Linked DNA regions of Homo sapiens: regions 2, 3 and 4 are each linked to region 1. The links come from fine-mapping of genetic effects on gene expression. A gene starts in region 1. Each other region holds a variant in brackets. All regions are shown on one strand. Distances are from middle to middle. Region 1 holds the start of PLXNA2 (plexin A2). Region 2 has its middle 75 kb from the start of LINC01735. Region 3 has its middle 170 kb from the start of LINC01735. Region 4 overlaps PLXNA2 (plexin A2).

The links.
Region 2: its variant is fine-mapped to the expression of PLXNA2 in whole blood (TOPMed, PIP above 0.99).
Region 3: its variant is fine-mapped to the expression of PLXNA2 in whole blood (TOPMed, PIP above 0.99).
Region 4: its variant is fine-mapped to the expression of PLXNA2 in lymphoblastoid cells (GTEx, PIP above 0.99).

The regions. Positions count from the first base shown.
Region 1 is chr1:208,241,741-208,247,891 of GRCh38, forward strand. It overlaps PLXNA2 (plexin A2), which reads right to left and starts at 2,644. Exons shown (of 32, transcript NM_025179.4): 1 at 1,903-2,644. RefSeq lists enhancers at 1,182-1,683, 1,684-2,183 and a silencer at 2,702-2,761.
Region 2 is chr1:208,535,686-208,541,836 of GRCh38, forward strand. No RefSeq gene overlaps it. Among named protein-coding and RNA genes, the nearest start is that of LINC01735, 75 kb to the right of the region's middle. The variant G/A (reference allele first, on the strand shown) is at 3,214.
Region 3 is chr1:208,444,025-208,450,175 of GRCh38, forward strand. No RefSeq gene overlaps it. Among named protein-coding and RNA genes, the nearest start is that of LINC01735, 170 kb to the right of the region's middle. RefSeq lists enhancers at 1,168-2,367, 1,527-2,027. The variant T/G (reference allele first, on the strand shown) is at 2,489.
Region 4 is chr1:208,186,381-208,192,531 of GRCh38, forward strand. The region is part of intron 3 of PLXNA2 (plexin A2); the gene reads right to left. Among named protein-coding and RNA genes, the nearest start is that of PLXNA2, 55 kb to the right of the region's middle. The variant C/T (reference allele first, on the strand shown) is at 3,033.

The DNA of each region.
Region 1 (6,151 bases):
CCTTTATCAGCAGGTCCCTGAAGACGATCGGCTGCGGAGTGGAGGGAAATAGCTCCTTTAGGTAATGCTGGTTGGTGGCAGCAGGGGCAAGTTCTGGAATGAGGAGGGGTTGGTGGTGATGCCAGGTGGAAGAAGGGGAATGAAAAACAACCTCGCTATGACAGATTCCACTGTTTCCTTGGTTCCCTACCCTTTCTCTTCACTGCCCCTTCAGCCTCCAGGCCACCACCAAGGAGAGATCCCAGGTAATTAGTTCAAATGGTGCTCCGTGAAGAGAGAGGGAAGTTAATGAATTCTTCTCTTTTCTTGCCTGGAGGTCAGAGGGGAGAGGGCTGCAAGCAACTCTGGGAGCTTTCTGGGGTTATTGCATAAAAGTTGTGCATTTCAGTTAGGAATAGCTGAATTCCTCCAGCCAAGGTTATCTCTTCCTGGGGCTCTGTCAATCAGTAGAAGGCCCCAGAATCCAAAGCCAACCCAGAGGGAAGAGTGAAGTTTCAAGATCTGGGAAAGAAGCCCAGCAAAGGAGGGAGACTGCTATTGTGTGGGGAGAGGGGAGAGCTAAACCTGACTCCTGCTCTCAAAGCCTCCAGCCCAGGCCAGCCAAGATACTCATCTTGGCCTGCCGCTCATAAGCCTTGTCCACTGTGCGCGTGAATGGAAGGAAATGAATGTGCCCCCAAATTTCTGTGGGTTCTTCCAAACTGATGGGCCCCCAAGTGACTGCCTCAAGCTATGACTGGCAGTCCCAGTCCCCTCAAACTGATGCTGCCTTCATGTCCCTTGTGCACTTTCTACTGGTGTGCCACTGTCACTCTAAGATTCCTACAGGGGACCTGTTCAGATTTCCATTGCCCACTTCATGGGGCTCTCATTTCTAGACCCTTACTGACCTAGAGCCCCAAATCTTTTATCCAACTTCCTCCCCACCATTATTTCTATCCCTCCTGAGCAGAGCTGAGTTTGAGTAGGTAGCTCCCACTAGGGCAAGGGTCATTCCAAACAGGTGGACTTTTTTCGGGGATCTAAAATGGTAGTTTCTGGTGACTCTCTGGGCATCTAGACCATGATTGGCATTATAGAGACTACCTGTGGGATGGATAAAAAGGGCTAGAATTTTCTAGGATCCCTACCTCACTTGTGGGGTGGGGCAAGAAAGAGCACATGGAAGGAAACATTCTCAAATGGTTCATAAGGAGCCTCTGGGACCCTAAGCAAACTCCCATTTCAACCCCCAGCACTCCTGTGGTGCTCAAACTAAGGGGCTGGACCCCTGCTGGGCGATACACCGCAAAGGGAGCCCCGGGAGATGAAACACTTAGACCCATTCAGTGCCTAGGAATCTCTCCCTGAGCCTTATGGAACCCGCGCAAATGATGTTTTCCCATTCCCCTGATCTCCAGTCCCCGATCGGAAGGGAGAGCCGGCGGCCACCAGGGACCCCGGCACTGGAGTGAACGCCCCCAAATCGATCGCTGGCCAGTGTGGCTTTGGGCTGTCTCGCTGGTGCCACCGAGGCCCTCTTTGGGCTCCAGCTCTCAGGACAGCCTTGCCGCCCCGAGCTCCCCAAAGCCGCAGAGCGCCGGCAGGTGCGCGGTGGAGGCGCGCCGCGGAGCGCTGCTGCCGCCCTCAGCCCGCATTCGGGAAGCCGGCGGGCTGCCGGCCGGGAAGCCCTCGGCGGGAGGCAGCGGCTCCAGTGAGCCTGCGATCGCGCGCACGCCGCGCTCCAGCCCGCGAAAGTGGCCGAGCCCACGCGGGGACTCGCCCGCCGCGGCCAAGCCGGGTCTTCTGGGGCCGGGACCCCAAAGAGGCGGGCGCGGGAGAAGCCGCCACGGGTGTGCGCGCCTGTGGGGAGAGGGCGGAGGGCGCTGCCGACTCCGAGCGCCCGGCCCAGCCGCCGCTTACCCAGCTCGGCGACGTCGGTCTGTCCTTCCGTCCCCGCTCGGTCTACCTCGGCCGCCGCCGGCTGCTGAGGGCGGCGCGAGGCCCCTCTCCCTGCCCGCAGCTCGGAATCAGGGAGACGACCAAATCCACATGGAGTCCAAATTCATTAAAATCCACGTCAAGCCACCAGACACTTATCTGTATTCCTGAAGTCGCTCCTCGGTCTCCGCTCCGCGCGCCCCTCAGTCCTCCGTCGCCCCGCAGCAGCCCGGCTGGGCGCTGTCGCCGGCTCTCAGGGGGCACCCGGAGGCGCCGAGGGGGCGTGTGGGGGCGGCCGGCGGTGTCTCTCCTGAGGAAGAAGCAGAGCCCCGGCTGTCTTCAGATTTTTCCAGCGCGACTTTCCGGGCTCCTCTGACATCAGCAATCCCGGCGCTTCCTTCCCTTCTTGCTCTCCGGTTCGTTCACAGTCCCATTTCCTCCGGGAGCCTGGCTTTCCAGATCTATTTCGAGGTTTGCTCCGCTGGCTGCGGCGCTCGCACGCCCTACCGCTCCCAAGCTCTCGGGGTCTCTCTCCGGATCGCTCGCCCTCTCGGCTGAAAAATTCCCAGCAACTGCCCTCCGCCGCCCTCCCGCTCCAGTCTGGCGCGGATGCCGCTCCTCCCGGCAGCTCTGGCTCCCGCGGTGGCGGCGGCGGCGGCGGCGGCGGCGGCGGCGGAGGAGCCCTGAGCGCCGGCCTCCCTATTTCACCATGCAGCTCATTATCATAGAGGCCGCGCGCGTTAACCCCCTCCCCGCCGGCCGCGTCCGCCCGGGCTGGGGCCGCGCCCGCTGCTGGCACCGCCCGCCACCGCCAGCACCCTGCCCCCTCCCCCGCCCGCGCGGACTTCCTCCTCCGCAAGCTGTCAACAAAGGAGAAGCAGGTTTGGCATCCGGAGGCCGCTCGGCTGCCTGTCCTGCGCCCAGCTCAGCCCGGACCCATCGGCCACCTTAAGTAGCCAAGGGGGCAAGGAAAATGCTGCCAGGGCCCGGGAATTCGAGTCGGGCCTTGCGAGCCCAGCTGGCTTGGCCCCCGGGGGAATAGAAGGTCTAGCGTTGGGGTTAGGGGGGAGCTCAGAACACAGGAAGAGTGGGTGAGGGCAGTAGGGACAGGGAATCCCCCCCATTCGCATCACCTGTCACCGCACACATCCTGCACACCTCCCTCTTCATCTGTAATTTGAGTGAGGGGTGAGTGGGGAGGAACGGGGCTTGTCTGGTAGGGTTGAGACTAGAGTCTTGGAATTTGTGGGAGCAAATTTCCTCTTCTTGTAAATTAAAAAAAGAAAAAGGCCAACAAGCTGTCAAATAAGGCTTGAAGTTGTTGTTATTATTATTATTGCAATGAGAAGATGAACCTTGCTCTGAATTGAATCTCAAACTTCCAGCCCTGATAGGGATCCTGGGCATCTGGTAAGTCCCGACTTGCATGGGGGCATTGGGGACGGGAGAAGAGCTTTCTATATCCAATTCAGAGAATCTTTCTGGCAGGGTAATCAGAGGGGTGGCAATAAGATAACTTATTTTAATAACCTAAGGTGAGAGGTTTCGGGATTCTGGATGACAATGTCTCGGTGCCCTCAAGGCCACTGATTCCTCGCCACACAGTCTCAGTAACTCCGCAGCCTCTAGACACGGCTTTCCGGAAGCGGCCTGCAAGCTGGACCCCAGCGAGTTCGCAGGATCTGCGTAGTCCCTGCTCGCGATTAGAGCGCACACGAGTTTACTCCTGTCCAAGTATTCTGATAAGCTTCCTCTACTGCCCTCTCGTGGCCACAGTCCTCAGTGGTATAAATCTAAAAAACAACAAAAATCACTGCGAATACCTAAAAGCAATTGCACCAAATTCTTAGAGCAGTAGCGGCAGAAGAAACGAAGGGAGGGAAGGATGAAGAAAGGGAGCCGGAGAAAAGAGAGAGAGAGAGGAAGAAGAAAAGGAAATCTAGACTAACCAGTCATCTCGAACAATCGCACATTCAACACAGGACTGGGGGATCTAGGCTTTACTCCAACATCTGCAGAAATCAGCGAATTCTTCAAAAGTTCTTCATTGTAATTAGCTGAAATTTGTGTTCCTGTAACTTTCACTGGCTACTGCTAGTTTTGTCCTGTGGGACCACAAAGAATCTGTCTAAGCTGTGTTGCCTGATCCATACCTGTTCTTTCCTTCAAACTTCTTTAGCATTCATTGTTGGTAACACACCAATAAATTATCATATTTACCCTGTGTTATTATTTATTTATTTTTATAAGTAGATCTTGTCTCCCCATGCAGACAGACTAGTCGATCGTTTTATCTCTGGGTAGACTGAATCTAAACCACAATTTATTAAAAAAGATGATTTGAAGAAGATGCTAGAAGATTTTGGAACACTTCCTCCATTTGTTCATGGAGTTTGGCCAGCTACACCTAAGACCAGCCGTGGTAGGATTGGAGATATCTAATTGATAAAGCTCCAAGCTGAAAATTAGGGCCCTCTGGTTCTAAATCAAGTGGTGTCTGACTCTGGAAGAGGTCACCTCTCTTCCCTATGCCTCAATTTAATCACACCTTGGGAAGATTATGATACAATTGAAATAATTTTCTCATATGCCACCCTCCACTCCTGTGGTCCAGAAATAAATCTTAGAATGAAGAGCAAGGAAGCATAAAATGAAACAGACTCTTCCACTCACCCCATCTTTTATCCCCACACCTCCCCTCTCTTTCCTGAATAAAGGGAGAGAAAGAGGGAACACAGGCGGGAGGACACATTGTGGCTGACAGGGTGGCACGACGCCATCCAGATTCCACATTGCCACTGAACAGGGTCTAAGATCTGAGTCCTGTGAGACTATGGAAGAGCCTGTGGTCAGCATAGCAATGGAAAGAGCGCTAACTTGATCTACTGGGAGGTACAGTGGATGAAGTACCTCTAACTTCTCTAGGCCACAGTTTGTCCATCTGTAAGATGGGAATTTCTGTCTTCACTCTCCAGACAACTGGGGGAATTAAAATAGATATATGTAAGCGTGTTGGAAGAAGTAATAGTATCATCAAAATGGAAAGATTGTTGTTATATTTAGTCCTAATAGGCTAGAACAAATATGGATCTTATTAGCTAAACATCTAATTACCATAACATGCTCTGAGAATTTAAAAAAAAACCAAAACCTTGGGTTCATGGTTCGTATTTAGATTTGACATCCTCTGAGGCAACAGCGGTATACCTGAACCTCTAGTCTTTACATCTGCTCGTTAACCTTCTCCCTTTGATCTGGGTATTCATTCATTTATTACGCAAATATTTATGAAGAGCAAATTTACTAAATTTCTTCCTTTAATGGAACTATATACAGTCCATAATTACTGCTTTGGCACATATTTTTAAAGAAAGCATGGCAATAACCCTACAGATTCTATAACCTCAGATCTATCTCTTTCTGAGGTTTCTGGTTTTCTTGTATGTTTCTGCCCTTCACTATATTCTTCCTCATTCTGTCCATCTGATATCAGGCCCACAGCCCCTTGGGACTGACCAGTCCTCTGTCAGGGCCTTGTAGTTCGTCCTCATTTCCATCTGGAAGGATAGATGTAGTGCAACATATTTGTGAGCAGGCTGTCGATATTTAACAAATATTTATCAAATGAATGAACAAATGAATGAATGGGGAAATGTTTATCTTATGCCAAATCCTCATCATTGGAAAATCATAGCACACTCAACAGGGTTCTCCACTCACCCCAACCTACCTACCTTCCCTAGTCAAGATATTCCTGGAACCTCACCTTGAAAGTCATTTGTCACTTCTGCATTCTTGTTCCAGGCCCCAGGCCTCTTCTTTGCTTGTCAAAGAAGCAAGCTAAGTAACTAGATGGGTTACTTAAGCAAGAGAATGAGAGAAGTGGGAGAGGACAGGGCACCAACATTCTGGAATGCCACAGAATGTTTCCTGTGAAGAATGAATATTTCTCCTGTGGAAGGCAGGTTTGGCTAAGATGCTGCCACCTGCATTTTCCAGGCTGGGAGCAGGCCTTGGCCCTGGAAAGCAAGCTCTTAGACTTTGGGGAGCACAGGCCCAAATGGGCAACTAGCCCATCCCTAGGGGAAGTCCTTTATGTCACAGCAGCAGCTCCAGCCCCACAAATAGATGCCAGTACAGTAGCCCCTCGGATCACAGGAGGTATTTTTGGTGCTGGAAGCCAGCCACACTTTGGCAGGCTTTCAGCATCAAGTCTGTTCCCTTTAGAGGC
Region 2 (6,151 bases), 290 kb after region 1:
CTCTGGAAATTTGAAACCCAAGCACTAATCTGTCGTGGAGATTAATAAGAAGCGTTTGCTCTGAGGAGCTAGGCTGTGACCTAGTAGAGAGTTGTTGGCGCACTGGCTCACGCCTGTAATCCCAAGACTTTGGGAGGCTGAGGTGGGCGGATCACCTGAGGTCAGGAGTTCGAGACCAGCCTGGTCAACATGGTGAAACCCCATCTCTACTAAAAATGCAAAAATTAGCCAGGCATGGTGGCAGGGGCATGTAATCCAAGCTATTCGGGAGGCTGAGTCAGGAGAATCGCTTAAACCCGGGAGGCAGAGGTTGCAGTCAGCCAAGATCGTGCCACTGCAATGCAGCCTGGGCGACAGAGCAAGACTCTGTATCAAAAAACAAAACAAAACAAAAAAAAGTTGTCTATGTGGTAAGCAGAGCTGTGACTCCTCAGGCTCCTTCCTCTGAAGAGATGCTTGTTTTCTAAGGATGAGTTTAGACTGAACTGTGCCCACAAATCATTGCTTGTTCTGCGAATGTCTGTGTGCTTGTTTGAAGTGATGCTTATAGGAGATGGAGAGCTCAGGCTTGTGAGACAACAGGAAGGAGCTGCAGGCATAATCTTCACCCCATGCCAGAGAAAGGACCATCAAAAGGAAATGATTAGGAATCATTAGGAACCAGAGCTCAGCCTGGACTGTTCTGTGGTTTGCCCACTGTAGCACGACAGGAAATTGAACAGACTAAACTTTAAGAAATGCGGAGAATGAAGGGTATCATGAAAAGGAGATAAAAGTCTGTTGCAGATTTTCAGGCCTTAGGTGAGGAAGGCCTGGGATGGGCAGAACTGAATGTGAGAGGCGATTACCGGGGAAGAATAGGTTGGATTTGGTGGCAGACAGCATCTAAGGGATTAAGGAAAGGGAGTAATTGATATTATCTCAAAGAGTTTGAGCCTGCTTACTGTGGATCTGCAGTGCCATTAACTGCATAAAGAAATTTTGAGAAGGGGAATCATTTGAGGTCTGCCTCCGCACTCAGTGGTGGTAGAAATTCTCCTCCCAACAACACAATAGCTACCACCTATAGATTGCCAAGCCCTTCCGCAAATGCATGAAGGGAGGTATTAAGTGACTTGCTCCCTCAAGGTCTTTATCTACTTTTCTGTGGGTTCACCTTTGGTTCCCAGGGGAATTTTGCATTTTTAGTGAAGTAGCCATGCAGAGACAAGGTCTGTAGACTGGTGTGTGGGGACACAAAAGGCAGTGAGCAGATAAGAGCTGACAGTTGCTATGCCAAAAACAGGAGAAAGGGGAGACATATTTCTCTTTATGCAGCGGAGATCTTCTTTGATCAATTTACATAAATTGATTTTTTTAAAGTTTGAAACCTTTCTCCCCATTATTCTTATTTTCCTCTCAAATCAATGAATGCATCTCAGTTTGATTTTCTATAATCAGTGGCTTGCTATGAGCATTTCTATCCTACAGTTTAAAGACCTGTAAATAAACACTTTCGTGTACTCAGGGGAACAGATGCTTAAAGGTGTTCTTTGATAATGTACATGATCAACACTTAATGCATCTTTTTGTAGCTTCCCATTTTCATGAAAACAAGTTATCCTAAAGAGAATTATTTCTAAAGTCAAGGACTGGCTCCTTCTGGAAACCCCCATCTAGCCCCCAGCATAGGTTGATGGCTGGGCTGGGCTTTGTCTCTCAGGCTGCTTGGCAACAATGGGCTCTCTCCTCACTGGGCACTGACCAGCCGCTGGGAACAATGAACTCATGCACCCTCAGCCAGCACCAGGAGTCACTTAGTTCTCCTTTTGACCTTGCCTTTCAAAAGCTGATCCTTATTAACCATCAGGATGCGGTGGGGAGTTGCTGAGACAATCCTCAGCAGCAGCAGGGTGACCCCCGAGTTGTGTCTGCTCTGAGACAATATAACCCCTAAGCTCCAGGGCTCCGAGGGTAGTGATTTAACAAATCGTGTGTTTAAACAACTGATGGCACGACGCTGTTGGAGGGGTCTTTGAAGCACATTTCTAAATAATGGGGGAAATAATGAACACCTCTCACAAGGGTATTTAAATGACATACACATTAGGAGGTTGGGGGGAGGCTCTTCTCTTCTTGCATAATGGACACTTTTTCCTGTTCTTTCATCCTGTTTTCACTTCATGCTTCAAAAATAGTTGTTGAGTGAGCAGACCTCTGGGCACTTTGTAACCAGAAAGAGAAAGACCGCCAATGGCCTGTCACCAGCCTTTCTGAGAGGTCCCAGCCTCTCAGATGCCCTGATGCAGGCAGAGGAGTCCAGTGGAAAGCCCAGAGCATTCCTGCTCCTAAATCCCCTTCCTCACCTGCCATTGGAAACATATTTCCTTATTTAAGACATTGCTGTCAGTAGATGGGAGGTGGCATAGAAAGCTGCTTGTGGGCAGTGACATTTGGCACATTGCAGTTACCCAGATTATGTTCTAAGGAAAATATTAGCTGGGAGAGAATGGGGCACAGGATTAGCAAACTTTGATTTCGTGTTGTGGGGTACGTGGGAGTATGGAAGGGAACAGGCTTGTAGGACTAATTCCAGGTTCTTAATATAGCAAATCTCTGCCTACATCTTTACCTAGTTTCTCACGACTCCCCATATCCGGCTTGTTCCCTAGCATCATGCTGATATTCTTGACACACGCTTACACTGGTCCCTCGCCTAGACCTCTCCTACTTTGCCTGTGTATCTTCTACTCTGCCCTAGTTTCTTCGTGAGGCAGGGTCACAGTACCACTTTTGCTGGTCCTAAGCAATTTGGCCTTTGTGGGCTCTTCTTCCAAAAAAAAAAAAAATGTAAAATTCTATTTGATAACAGCACTGGCATGAAGATGCGTATAATGTAGGCTGAATTCATTGTTACTAGCCGTTATTATTATAATCATCTATTCTTGTTTTAAAAGAAATTAAAATTAAAGCATTTTTGTGGGCCACAGGCTCTGTGGCCTGACGGATGTCATGGCTAACGGATGTCAGCTCTGCACCTGAGAGCCCTTTCTGCCTTCCCCGCAGGTTACACACCCATTGTCTGTTGTTCTCATTAACTTCTCTTTAATATTGCTCTTGCCACACTGTACTGTAGTTTCCTGTTTGCGCAGGTTACGCACCCATTGTCTGTTGTTCTCATTAACTTCTCTTTAATATTGCACTTGCCACACTGTACTGTAGTTTCCTGTTTGT[G/A]TATTTGCCTCTCCTATTAAACCTGGTTCTTCTTGAGAAGAGAGAACTGTGCTGTGTTCATTGTGGAATACTGCACAATTCACCCAGGGCCTAACTCGTAAGTAGCCACTCCACACATCCACATTGTACTGAGCGGTTGACAAAGACAGAGCTGGTGGGGCACTGTCCTGAGGGTTCGGCCACAGCAAGGAAGGCACTGGTCAGCAGGAATGGTGCTGACAGGGCAAGTGGGTGGGAGGATTTCGCAGATTTGCCTTGCCTGTTCTACACATTAGCTGAGGGCCGAGACTGCCCACAGGCAGTCATAAACTGGCTGTGGTGGTCAAAGCCACCTGCAGATCTGACAGGAGGAAAGGCTAAGCTCCTCTCTGTCCAACGCGGCTTTAGTGCCCTAAGGAGATCACCTTTCCAAGCACAGCAACCCTGCCTGTGAGCAGGGCCCTGTGTGCCCACATAAAATGGAGAAACAAAAACAACACAATCGATAAACGAGCAATTTCATAAGTATGATTTGGGGTCAGTTTGGCTGGAGGGGAGAATTTAATTGCAAAGCTCCTACGTCTCAACTGCCTGAGGGTAGAAATTGGAGAGAGAAGAATGGGAGACTCGAATGTTGATTATTAATAAGTCTTAAGGGTTGAGGGTGGAGGAAGACCTGTGAAGACTGAGGTTAAAATGATGCAGATGAAGGCACTTTAGGTGAATGCTTTGAATTTATACATTGCTGCTTCAAATGGCCCCAAACTTAAATAGAAAGATGATCTGTGTTGCATTTCAGAATTTGTTCTTATAAAAATGAAAAGCCCAATAGGGTATTGTGCTAACAACCTACTAGAATACCATTTGGCATTAAAAGAAAAAGAAGTTCAAGATGTAGTCCCTACTGTCAAATAGCTTGGAATCCAAACTGGGCAAGGCAGGTCATGTGTGAATCTCTTGTTGAAAGTGACAGAGCAGAGTGAAAACCACATAGACCTCTGGACTGAGTAAGCAAAGAGCAGGTGGGCAAGAGAAGTGAGGGGATCCAGGCTCCCATGCATGAGTGGGCTGGGCTGCCGGGACAGGTTTATCTAGCTGGCCTCACTGGAGGGTTCCAGTGGGACTAATGGATGGTTGCTAAATCTGCATCTCCAGATCTAGTCCTGTTTCTGAGCCCAAGAACCAAAATTCAATCAGCCTTTGGGATATGTTTTCCGCAAAAGACCTTTGTCAACTAAACAGACTTGACCGTTGCCCTCTAGCTCCTGCTGGTGTCCCTATTTCTGTTAATGGCAGCTTCATTACTTAATCAGAATCAGTTTCAGCATTCTTCCTGACTCCATCCTTTCCCGTATGCTCTATTTTAATTGGTACTCTGGCCCCAAAGATTCTTTTTTCACAGCTTCGCTTAAGTCAGATCTCATCTTTCCTACTCACAGGCCACCCCCTTAATATCATTTCGTGTCACCTTCTTCTGGACCGTTGAAATATCCTCCTAATGGTTTCTTCTTAGACTTATTTTAATGTATATATTGGCATTAGAATAATTTTACCCACACTGTCCTGGCTCAACATCTGCAACAGCTGTTCATGGCCTCCTAAAAAAGAGTCTTCATTCAGGCATTCTAGAAAACTGATTGAGAAGAAAAGGCTTTGGTGTCAAACAGACCTAGTTTGAGCCCCAGTTCTATTACTTAGCAGTGTGACATTTGCTGAATTAACCACTCTAATCCTGATAGTTAAAATTTAGGTAATTATTGTGTCTACATCATCATGTTGCTGAAAAGATAATAGATGCAAAGTGCGTAGCACAGTGCCTGGGACAAATAAGTGCTGGATAAAGCAGTTATTATTTTTTAGCTATTATGATGCTTTGCTTCTTATCAATCTGACTACATCTATATTTAAAATAACCCTGATGTTAATTACCTCACACATACCTATGTTCTTACCAAGTGAGACTCTTCACTTGCCTCCTGCAGGGGGGGCTCTGAAATTCATTCTGCTGCCACAGGACTGGCATCCAGGATAGCCGAGTGAGGACCTGGCACCACCTGCTCCCTGAGCACAGCCTGCCAGTAACCCACAGCATTTCCCAAGCCACAAATTCAGACTTCTTCTTCAGTCCCTGGTTAGTGATGAGCCTCTCTTCAGTGCTAGGACCCTTCCCTGAGTCCCAGTAAGATGGGCCGCCCTTGAAACCCTGCTCATCCTGGCAATCTGCTGTATCTTCCTTGCTGGCATGTGGATGTCTCTGTTTCCAACAGGAAGGGCCATCCACCCTTGAAACACTGCTATGTGGAAAATTCTGAGTATGAGGCAGCATAGAAGAGTGGTTAAGGTCATGGTTGTTGGAATCAGCTGAATAGGGTCCCATTTCTGACTCCAGTGTGACCTGGAACAATTTATTTAACCTTTTACTTCCTAATCTTTAAAGCAAGGACAATCATACCACCTTATCCTGTATTCTTCTAAATGCAGGGCCTGCTAAACACACCTATGAGCTTACTTGGGCATGTGATCCCAGAAGAAGGAACCCAAGCCAGGGGAGGAGTGAATCAGTGTAGGAGGGCAGGCAATGCAAGGAGGAGTTATGGATTTGGATACTGCACAAGAGACTGGTGCTCAATTCCATTAGAATTTCTAAGCGGCATTATGAAATCCAAATCAAAATGAGCTGTCCAGGGAACAAAAGGAGAAGCATTTATCCATTAGCTTCTGTCACCCATTAGTCAAGGGTGATCCCCACTTGGCGTTAACCACTGGCACTTGCAGGTTGCACTTGTGTGCGTGCCAAGCTGCAAATCAGAGAAGCTCTAGGACAGGAAATGAGAGGTGCATGGTGAGACTGGAGGAGGTGCTGTCAGGCTGTGCCTGAGCAAAGCTGGTGGAGGCCTTTGCAGGCGGGTTCTGCAGAAGTGGCTGGAGCAAGAGACAGAGCCTAGAGATGCCTCTGTAC
Region 3 (6,151 bases), 200 kb after region 1:
AATTCTTGGCTGCTAATTGTTTTGTTTGAGGAGGCTGAAGATAGGGCTCCAACCCCTTCCAGCTTGTAGGGTTTCTGCTGAGAAATCTATTGTTAATCTGATAGGTTTTCCTTTATAGGTTACCTGGTGCTTCTGTCTCACAGCTCTTAAGATTATTTTCTTTGTCTTAACTTTGTATAACTTGACGATAATGTGCCTAGGCCAAGATCTTTTTGTGCTGAATTTCCCAGGTGTTCTTTGTGCTTCTTGTATTTGCATGTCTGGGTCTCTAGCAAGGCTGGGAAAGTTTTCCTTGATTATTCCCCCAAATATGTTTTCCAAGCTTTTAGAATTTTTTCTTCCTCAGGAACACCGATTGTTCTTATGTCGTTTAACATAATCCCAGACTTCTTGGAGGCTTTGTTAATATTTTCTAATTCTTTTTTTTTGCCTTTGTTGGATTGGGTTAATTTGAAGACCTTGTCTTCGAGCTCTGAATTTCAATCTTCTACTTGTTCAATTCTATTGCTGAGACTTTCCAGAGCATTTTGCATTTCTAAAAGTGTATCCAAAGTTTCCTGAATTTTTAATTTTTTTTCTTTAAGCTATCTATTTCTTTGACTATTTCTCCCTTCATTTCTTATATCATTTTTTGGATTTCCTTGCATTGGATTTCACCTTTCTCTGGTCCCTCCCTGATTAGCTTAATAACTAACCACTTGAATTATTTTTCAGGTAAATCAGGGACTTCATATTGGTTTGGATCCATTGCTGGTGAACTAGTGTAATTTTTGGGGGGTGATGAAGAGCCTGGTTTTGTCATATTGTCAGGGTTGGTTTTCTGGTTCCCTCTCATTGGGTAGGCTCTGTCAGAGGGAAGGTCTAGGGCTGAAGGATGTTGTTCAGATTCTTTTGTCCCACAGCATAGCAGGACAATCCACAGACAAAACCCCTCAGACATGGAGTTAAAGAAGGAAGGGCTTTATTTAGCCGGGAGCTTCGGCAAGACTCAGGACTCCAAAAACCGAGCTTCCCAAGTGAGCAATTCTTGTCCCTTTTAAGGACTTATAACTCTAAGGGGGTCTGCGTGAGAGGGTCGTGATCGATTGAGCAAGCAGGGGGTACATGACTGGGGGCTGCATGCACTGGTAATTAGAATGGAACAGAACAGGACAGGGATTTTCACAATGCTTTTCCATACAATGTCTGTAATCTATAGATAACATAACCAATTAGGTCAGGCGTCAATCTTTAACTACCAGGTCCAGGGCATGGCGCTGGGCTGTCTGCCTGTGGATTTCATTTCTGCCTTTTAGTTTTTACTTCTTTCTTTGGAGGCAGAAATTGGGCATAACACAATATGAGGGGTGGTCTCCTCCCTTAACAGGGTGTTCCCTTGATTTAGTACTCTCCCCCTTTTCCTGTGGATGTGGCTTCCTGTGAGCTGAACTGAAGTGATTGTTGTCTCTCTTCTGGGTCTAGCCACCCAGCAAGTCTACCCAGTTCCAGGCTGGTACCAGAGGTTGTCTGCACGGAGTCCTGTGATATGAACCGTCTGTGGGTCTCTCAGCCTTGGATACCAGCACCTGTTCTGGTGGAGGTGGCAGAGGGTGCATTGGACTCTGTGCAAAAAATAATGCTCCATTTTTGTGCTGGTCGGCCTCCTGACAGGAGGTGTCACTTTCCAGAAAGCATTAGCTGTAGCAGTGTGGAGAGGGACTGGCAATGGGTGGGGCCCTAGAACTCCCAAGATTATATGCCCTTTGTCTTCCACTACCTGGGTGAGTAGGGAAGGACCATCAGGTGGGGGCGAGGCTAGGTGTGTCTGAGTTCAGACTCTCCTTGGGCTGGTTTTGCTGCAGCTGCTGTGGCAGATAGGGTAAGATTCCCAGGTCACTGGAGTTGTGTACCTAGGAGGATTATGGCTGTCTCTGCTGAGTCATGCAGGTTGTCAGGGAAGGGCAGTCAGGGAAGTGGCAGTCACAGGCCTCACCCAGCTCCCACACAAACCAAAGGGCTGATCTTACCTCCCACGGTGCCCCACCAAAACAGCCCTGAGTCTGTTTCCAGGCAGAGGGCTAGACGGGCTTGAAAACTTGCCGACGCTTTCCGCCTCCCAGAGTATATTTGAGGTGTCTCCCGGGTCCTGCAGTAGCAGTGTGCTTCCTTCAGAGGGTCTGTGGGTCCTCTCAGGATTGCTGGTTTGTTCTTGCTGTTGATCCGGAGCTAAAATTCACAGTGCAAGCCCCCGCATGCTGCTCTGTTCCCAGCTGCAATCTAGTCCTCCCTCCCGTCTGCCATGATCCTGAAATCCCCCTCTCTGTGGTTCTTGCTGCCCTTTGCATTACTTCTTTCCTTCTTGATTGCACAGGCTGAAAGTCTAGGAACTTGGACTTCTGCCTGTCTCTGGAAAGGGGCCCCAGGCTGTCCAGAGTAACAAATTATCTGCTTATCACAGTTGACACTGCTACCATTCTACTTTATTATTTCCGGCTATTATTTTCCCTGA[T/G]TTTTGGGAAGCTGACTGCAGCTTTTTATCTAGATGCTCACACTCCATCACCGCTCTACCACCTCCTCTGTCTACTTGCCTCCCACCTTTCTGCGTGGGCTGCCCTGCCTTCTCCACACAGCGAGTCTTTATCCACTTCATCTGGTTTATCTGCTGAGAGTCCTCAAGGTTCAGTTGTTTCTCCATTGTTATTTGCAATTTATCTGATTCTAAACCTGACATTATATCTCACTGTGATATACAGTTATCTGGCTATTGTTTGTCCAATGCAAGTATATTATTTTGCATCCACTTTTTTTCTTGCTTTTCGAAGTTGGGAACCATGTCTGTAACATCACAAAATCTGATGTCTGCAAATCATCCCCGTAACTGCAGAGATAAGACAGGACTCATTACCATTCATGTTATCCTCACTTGGGGAGAACTCAGGTCAAATTTCTTTACCCTTGGATAACACTTTTCTTTAATTTTAAACTTGTCCTTTCTCTCTCTCTCTCTCTCTCTTTTTTTTTTTTTGTATCTTTTTTGAATTCAAGACATTCATTCACCTCCCACAGCTTGCTTCTCTGATTGGAAGACCATTTCTACTGGTGGCAGGCATAGTGTAAATATTTCATTTTTGAGGTTTGTTCAGCAAGGACTATTCGGACTGAAGATGAAATGCCAGCTAAAGTCCCTGTGTGTGAAGAACATCATGTTCAGCCTTTTTCTCCCAAGGCAAATTATTTGCTTAACTAAGGGTTTCTTCCTTGATTACAGTCCTTATTATTGAGATCTTGTCTGAATTTCCCAGGTGTGTTTTGAATTTCACAATCTCACTCTATACTCCACAGAGCTAGTCTCAGAAAATAGATTTGCATGTGCCCCCAGCTCTGACGGAGACAGAGCCCTTCCCTAGACAAAAAGCCCTGGGAATAAAGGGCTAAACAGTAACACAGTATCTGGGCATGCTAATTATTATTATTATTATTATTGACTGAGGACATTGGCTGGCTGTTAATAGACACATCTATTAGGTGTCATATTGTTTGTCTTGGGACATTGCTTCTCTTGATTTGTAAGATTTTAGAGGAGAATGAAAAAACTAGGTGAAAATTCAACAAGTAATATTTGGTTTTGGCATTTAAAGAAAACACATAAGCACCTCTGATGTGCCAATCAATGTGCCAGGCACAGGAACACAAGGGTGAGTAAGAAAGTAGTCAGTCTTTAAGCATCTTCATATATAGTGGGAGAGAGAGACATGCAGACAAGCAATTATAACATGTTGATACATTCTCCGACAGAGACCTCTGCAAAATGCCATGGGAGTCCAGAAGATGAAGTTATAAATTTCCCAGGGGTACCAGGGACAGTGTGTCAAAAAGTGAGCCTTGCAAATGACTGGGAGTGTCTCAGATACGGAAGGTGAGGACTGCATTCAGGCATAAGCAGCTCTGAGTGTGGAGGAATGGCCAGCTGGGTTGTGGAACAGGACAGAAGGCGAGAGTGAGGGCAGAGGAGAGAGGGCAAAGGCCTGGCTAGAAAGGGAAATTAGAGGCTGGCAGTAACAGAGCTCCCCCTATGTGAATATCAGATATCAGGTTCAGAGTGCCTCCCAAAAAAACAAGGGAAGGGGGAGAGGGTGGACCTTCCAAAGGGACATCAGCAGAAGATTCTGACTTTCTCTTCTTTTGAAATTACCACCCATTCCAAGCTCAGATGTCTGTCCTCATGCTGCCTTTCCTACTCAGTGGCTACAGGTCTGGGGACTAACCAATGGGCTTGTTCTTGACCTTGCTTCATGGCATCTGTTTCTGTTTAGACATCCCCACCTTCTTTTGTTCATTTCATTTTTTTTACGCTCTACTGATTTAACCATGGCCTCTTTTATATCCTATTTCAGTTAAGGCCCTGCTTTCATCTTCTCCACTGGCATTTCAGGCCTTTGCCCAGCTAAGCAGTGACCATATATGCCAGCGCTAGGTACCATCCTGGAAAGAGAGAATCAGATAGGATGGGCAAAGGCCTGTCTTAATGAGTGCTATTGAGATCTACTTGTAAGAGAAAAACAGATGTGGTTTCTATAACCTCATCAAGAGACATGTTATTCAGGATGGGATCAGGTGGGGGAAGGTGAGAAGATAATAGTAACTACGTCTGAAAGGAGAGGTATGTGACATTACCATGACAAACGTTAGAGGAGAGGTGGAGATGCTAAGGTATGGGAGCTTTTAACAATTGCTACATATGAATAATATTGGGAGATTATGTGAAATTATTGGGAGTAGTGTGAAAGAGAAGCGTAAAATTGGAAAATAATAGGTTTGGTGAATTACGGCACTTAGTATTTTCTCTGTCATTACCTTCCCTCCTTCCACCCCCTCAGTCATATCAAAAGTATCAAAAGCAGGTATGCAGAATGCAAGAAGGTGAGAAGAATGACAATCTTACTTTCTCGATCCCTGGATCCCAAAGCATGTTAAAAATGTTAAACCAGCAGTTTGCTCACAGAGACAGAAGCCAACTGTGGGGTGAAATTGCATCAGTAGGGACATGAGGGTAGACTTGAGAAAAATAGGGTTGCAAGGCACTAAAATAACAGAGGGAGGGCATTAGAGTTCCCTCTGTGGAAATCTGTTAGAAGAGGAGAGAAAACCATCTGTCTGGAACAGTGTAAATATAGTCATGCTTATGCCCAGGGGATGGACTTATTTTTTCCTTTTAAACAATTTTAACTGAAAGTTTTATGTGAAAACACTATCAAAGTACAAGAGAGTACTTAGTATTCTGTTTTAGTTTGTTATTATTTTATTATTAAACATTGTACAGTTAGCATTTTCCACATTTCTGCTTGGTCTTTACAGTTATTTTAATGGCTGCATAATATCCCAGTATATTGTAGAATTGTTAATGTAATAATATATCTGGTATTAGCTCTGTATATCCATTGCTGGCCCAATATTTGAGTATTTTTATAGACTTCTTTAATTCCTCTGCACTGTTCAAATTAGTCTGCCTTTCCTTTCCCAAATATTCCTAAACTTCTACCTGCAACCACCCCCACAACCACCAGCAGAATGCCCGTTCCACTTCATCTCTACTGGCCTATAGGGAGGAAACACGGGTGGTGGTAAAGGCTTCGCTGTCAGGTCAGAATCAGGTTTCCCATTTTTATTATTTACTAGTTTGGGGATCCTGTGACACTGGGCACATTATTTCATCTTGTGAGCTCAATTTCTTCATCTGGAGAATATCTGTAATTATATGTATCTTGAAGGGTTGTGTAAGGATTAACAACAACATTTATAAAGTGCTTGCTACACAGTAGATGCCTAGACGGTCTGATTACTGGGGACCCCACGACAAAGAAAGTTGTCTTCTTACATCCAATTAAAAGCACGTCGAGGGCAGGAATCTTATTTTCTTTGCCCCCGAATCCCCCAATGGTGCAGAGGGATTTATACGATTCATGCTTGTTAGTTGATTATGTAGATCTTTGCTGAATATCTGACTTCAAGGACAATGTTGTCAACTTGTATATGATTAGTGTGGGGTCGGGGGGTGTTAGGGGCAGAGGGAGTGGAGGAGGTAGGGCTGTTGAGCATGTGCTTTCTGAGTTTCTGAACTCTTGCGCCTCCTGTCGGCAGCCAACAGGTTCTAAAATGGCGGCAGCTCATGGCC
Region 4 (6,151 bases), 55 kb before region 1:
ACAGAGAAATGTACAAAATGTAATTTGGCAAAAAAACAAACAAACGGAAAAAAACACAATAAAACCAAAACCCACAACCACACCTCCCATAGCCTTTCTTGTTTTGTATTCTCTCTTTTTAAAGTTGGGTTGTTATCTTTGCAACAGAGAATGCCAGCAGGTGTTGCTGGCAGCTGTTTAATGACAGTGTCAAGAACATCTTTCAGAAAGGTAGGCTTGGAGGCAGGAGGCGGTGATGGAGAAAATGGGATAGGGGGAGAGTAGGTGGCCCCACATCTGTAGAGAAGTAGCTAAGGAATGAAGGGCTGTCCTGGGAATTGCAATGTTATTTTATTTTTTTTTTTTTTTTTGAGACGGAGTCTCGCTCTGTCGCCCAGGCGGGACTGCGGACTGCAGTGGCGCAATCTCGGCTCACTGCAAGCTCCGCTTCCCGGGTTCACGCCATTCTCCTGCCTCAGCCTCCCGAGTAGCTGGGACTACAGGCGCCCGCCACCGCGCCCGGCTAATTTTTTTTGTATTTTTAGTAGAGACGGGGTTTCACCTTGTTAGCCAGGATGGTCTCGATCTCCTGACCTCATGATCCACCCGCCTCGGCCTCCCAAAGTGCTGGGATTACAGGCGTGAGCCACCGCGCCCGGCCTGCAATGTTATTTTGTACAAAATCCTTCCTGTAGGAAGGTGGGGGAGGGACAAGAGACATTTTTCAGTTTTTTTGCAGACCTAAGAATTTTGAACCAGAATTACATGCAGCTTGCTGTGTCTCTGGACAAATATCTTAGCTCCTCACTCAGCATCTACCACTTTCTTCTTTATTGTTAGTGACTGTCATGAGGATTAAATGAAAGGACCTGGAGACCCTTAGAGAAGGGTCCCAGCAGTCTCCAGGGGTGATTAGCCCTGCAATTATTCCACATCTGGAAAAAGTAATAGCTCCCAGACTGGCAGGGTTATGTCATGGACCAGCAAGAGAAAGATGGTTTTTGTTACATAGCCCAGAGAGGCTGATCTTGGTTCTGTGTGTGTGAGAGAGACCGTAGGGAGGCTGGATTTGGAAGGGAGGGAAGCAGGAGCAACAGCCTGAACAACAAATGCGCTCCAAAGAACACCACCTGAACAACTCGAGCTCTGAAATCTTTTCTGCACTGTGCTTTCAGCTTACTTCCCTAAAGCTGACTCATGAAAGCAAACCTGAAACTCTCACAAGATAAAAAATTTTTTAGAGACAGCAAACCAGCCAGTGCTATGCGAAGACGTCTGCAAGGTACTCTGTCCTATCTGGACTGTTGTTTCCCTTACTGTTAGCACAATGACCAGGATCTTGTAAAAGTCCCTGGCAAGTATTTTCTCCACCTTCAGAGCATTACCAGGCCATGTACTTGCGGGATAAAACCTGCAGGTGTTAGGTTCTTTCTGATGCTGCTGATCAGATGGGTCAGGTAGCAGAGAGAAGGCAGCACTAACCCTTACATTTGTGCAGTGGTGTGCAGTTACTGTTGCTTTCACACGTATCATCTCACTAAATTGCCCCACGATCCTGTGAAGGAGGAACTGAAATGATCAATGTCTCCATTTTAGGGATAAGAGAACTGGGGTGATTTCCCCAAGGTCAGTGGCTGTAGAGCTGGGACTGAGCTCAGCCCACCCGATTTCTGGGCTTCTCTCCCCCAGCTCCACATTGCACCACCACCAGTGACGCGCACCTGAATATTTATGAGAATGGAGCCCCCAGATCACGTCTTGAGGGGAAGAACAAAGGAGGCAAGCTTATCTCATGCCTTCAACTAGGCACCTGAGGAAAGAACCCATGTCCTATTGTCCTTTACACCTACTGTAGCCCAAAACCTACAGAGATTACATGTCACGAGGTTCTAGCAAGATAGGCTGAATGCCTGCTTTAGGGTAGGATAGAAGAAAAGACACAACAAAGGTATGGAGCCCTCATGGAGGCTGTGAACTTTGAGCCACAAAACTAGGGATTTATGCCTAGGATCCACTGCTTACTGACTCAATAATCTCAGTTCAATCCATTTGCAAAATGGAGATATAGGCTGGGCGCAGTGGCTCACGCCTGTAATCCCAGCACTTTGGGAGGCCAAGGCAGGAGGATCACCTGAGGTCAGGATTTCAAGACCAGCCTGGCCAACATGTCGAAATCCCATCTCTACTAAAAATACAAAAATCAGCTGGGCATGGTGGTGGTTGCCTGTAATCCCAGCTACTCGGGAGGCTGAGGCAGGAGAATTGCTTGAACCTGGGAGGCGGAGGTTGCAGTGAGCTGAGATGGCACCACTGCACTCCAGCCTGGGCATCAAGAATGAAACTCTGTCTCAAAAAAAAAAAAAAAAAGAAAAAAAATGGAGCTATGAATCCCAACCTCTCAAGCTGCTATGAGAACTAAATGAGAGGAGAAATGTGAGAGTATACTGCATACTGCAATGTGTAAAGTTGGATCTTCTGGACCCTGCAGTTTCAGAAGTCACCAAAGATAAGATGGCAGAGGGTTGTGGAAGCTCCTCTTCTTCTGTAGAGCAATGCTTATGTACTCCAGCCCCAGATGGGCTGGATGTAGTGCACCCAGGAAAAGGGATAAGCCACCTTAGGATGGAAAGGACCTGGTGCATGGCAGGTTCTCTATGAATGAGTTTCCCTTCTGTCTCTAACCATTCCAAAACATTCTCTACGAGAAGCGCAAAGAAAAGGGCAAAAAGACAGTCATGAGGACAATCACAAGGACAAGGCATCTTGGGGATCCCTCCAAGCCTTAAGATCCTGAATGATTTCAGGCTACATTTTTAACAGGGTGAACCAGCACCACTGCTTAACACTTCCAGCCACGTTGTGAATCTCTGCTAAGTTAGGGATGAAGTGGGAGAGTCTTATGGTGATGACTGTCACTCACATGATCATGCCTGGGGAGGTGGTGGCAGCTGTGGTCTGTGTTACCTGACTCTAAACAGAGGCAGAGCAAAGATAGTGATCTTGTGGTTGACTCAAGGGCCTGGGCTGAGCTATACACAGGGCCCCACAGGAGG[C/T]CCAGAATAGGGAGGGAAGCATGGTCCAGCAGGCCCACCAGAAGGGAACCCTGACTCCTCCTCCCCTTCTCTTTGAGCTCCTGAGAAGAGATAAAGAGAAAAAAAAAAAAGCGAACCTGGGGCTGAGGCAGAAGGATGAGCATACTGGCTAGCATTTCCTGAGTATTCCCTCTTTGCCAAGTACTGCACTAAAAGATGAACACAACTGACCTCACTTAACTTTTGGAGCAACGCTGCAAGGTAGGTATCATCATTCTCATTTTGCAAATGAAGAAACCAAAGCTCAATAAGGCTAACTGATTTACCCAATATAATCCTCTTAGATGATAGGATTTGAACCAAGATAGTCTGATGCCAAAGTCCCTACTCTTCCCACTACACACACAGCTCCTGTCCAACAGCCCGCCAGTCAGGAGCTACAAATAAAATCCCACACCTCCTACAGCAGGCACTAAATCAGCACGAGGAGAAGCTGGAGGTTGGCAGAGAGAAGATCTTTATGAAGACATTTCAGGAGCAGGAGAAATATCTCCACCCTCTTCCCAGCCAAAAGTGTGGTTGTATGTGTAAGATGAGAAACATTTTGGGGTGGGGGAAGGAGGGTGGAATCTCAAGCTAAAATTACCACCCACACCGAAGTCACCCTGAAGGCAAACTGGGGCCTCAAGGATTTTGTTCGATTGTGTATGTGTGTGTATATGAGTATAGATGGTAGACTGGGAGAGAAGGAGGCAGAAAAGGGATTTTTTTTTCATTCCCAGTGGCAGTTATGAACAACATTTTCCTCCCAAAACTCATGCTTCTCCATCACTTACTTACGTCATGTTTTCTCCTTTCTGACCTTGTGCAGAGAGCTAGCATGCTTTTGTAGATGAGTAGACTTTGGGGCTAGAAGACCTGGGTTTGCTTTTCAAATCCACTACCCACTGAGTTGTTTAATAACTGCATATTATGTGAATAAATGGGAAAATAATTTAATCTCCCTGAGTCTTAGTTTTCTTATCTCAAAAAATATAGTACCTATGTTGCAGGGCTGTTAGAAAGATCAAATGAAGAGTGCTTAGCACAGTGGTTGACACATGGTTGACGCTCCAGAAATGTTGGTTGCCTTGATCAGGGTTTGTCAACCTCAGTACTATCGACATCATGGACCAGATAATTCTTCATTGTGGGGAGGAAGTCCCATCCATTGTAGGATGTTTAGCAGTATCCCTGGCCTCTACCCACTAGACGCCAATAGCTCTCTTTGCCCAAGACATAGCAATGAAAAGACATCGCCAGATACTGCCAAATGTCTGCAAAATCACCTCCAGTTGGAAACCACTAGCTTGATGTAATTAATACAGATATTAGCAACAAGTAATATGTTTGACAGCACATAGCAGGCCCATATGTAATTGTCATTGTTTTTGAATGAGTGAGTAAATAATTGTATGAATGAACACTCTAATAATGGGCGTTGCTCTGCATCTTCGAACCTTTGGTGGCAGGAGTACAGTCTACTCAGTCCTGGACCCCAGAAGGTTGATGGAATCCTCTGTAGTTGTCTTTCAGTGCAGACCTGCCATCTGCTGGGATTTGCAGGTGGGGCACTGACAGGTGAGGGAGGCTATGAGCTAAGTGAGGCTAAAGGATTTTTCCCTCTGGAAAAGGGCGGTCCCAAAAGGATTCGGCTGCAGCACTGCTGGCTTGAATTTCTGTGTATGAGATGTGACTGCCTGAATCATGTGCACTCCCCAAGAACCTTGTTCTTTGCCCATGGCCAGCAACAAACATTGGTAAGAATCCCGGAGGTCCTGCCTCACGCGGAAACACAGCACACATCTGCAAGCGCCTTTGACTCACATCAAGAAGGTGCCTCAAAATTGGGGCAGAGAGATGGCTCCTGTCCTAGGATTTCTTCCCCCTCCCCACTTTTCTCATCTCCTTTTCTTCTTTTAAAACATTTATTGAATGTCTTTTATATTAGCTGTTACTATAGATAGAGAGATAATGAATGCAGCCCTTATCCTAAAATCGTGGCGCGTACTGAGGGGAGGGAGAGAGAAAAGAAAAAGGACAATTATAATAGTACATACAACAATAATATTACTGTTTCCTGAGTACACACTCTATTTTGGACACTGATCTATATGCTTTACATGTATTAACTCATTTACATGTCCCTCACAATGAGCCTGGGAGGCAGAAATTATTATTATTTCCAGTTTGCAAATGAAGAAACAGGCACAGAGAGGTGAGGTTATTGTCACTATGTCGCACAGATATTAAGGGAGAGAATCAAGAGTTGAACACAGATACTTTGGCCCCAAGGCCTGGACTCTTCTTAAACGCAGTGCTCTCCTGCTCTGACAGCCACATAATTGGGGTGCTATGAAGCACATGGGGGCTTCCTAGAGGAGGTGGTGTATCAGCATGTGGAAGATGAGGAGGTGTTAGCTGGGCACGGGGCAGGGCGAGGGGTTCCTAGTCTGAGAACACTGCACACAAAGCCCCGAGGTGAGAACAAGCATGAAGACGTGTCAGGGTCAGGGATCCACGAGGCGATTCTTACCCTCCCTGAGTGGACTCCCTCCCCTTGCCTCATGGTGGGAGTAAGACCCACCCAGCTGATGGGACTCCTACCTTCTGGCCTGATTTGGTTCTCTCAATATTGATTTGGAGCTACCTCTTCAGCCTCCTCTCTCAGCCCGTGCTGCCTGATTTGGTGTCACAACAAAGACCATGACCCTGACTTTGTCTCCCAGGTGTAACCTTCGAGTCCACTCTTTCCATCTGCTCTGATCCATTCTCCTGGTCTGGGCCCACTGGCTCCTCTGGCCCACCTCTGGGCCCTGATCTGAATTCTTCCAGGGTTGTCTTGTCCTGCTGCCATGGACACCGGGTTTGGGGATGGTGTGTGTGTGTGTGTGTGTGTGTGCACGTGCACACATATGGCAGGTGGTGACTGTGGTGCAGGTATGCCTATTACCCAGGGTACATAACATGTGATGATCAAACAGACCTAAAATGTCATCATCTGCCATTTGAACCTTTTTTTTTAAACAACAAAAAAACCATACTCCTAACCCTACTAGAAGAAATAGATAGATGAAATAGATGAAAGTAAGATACTTTGA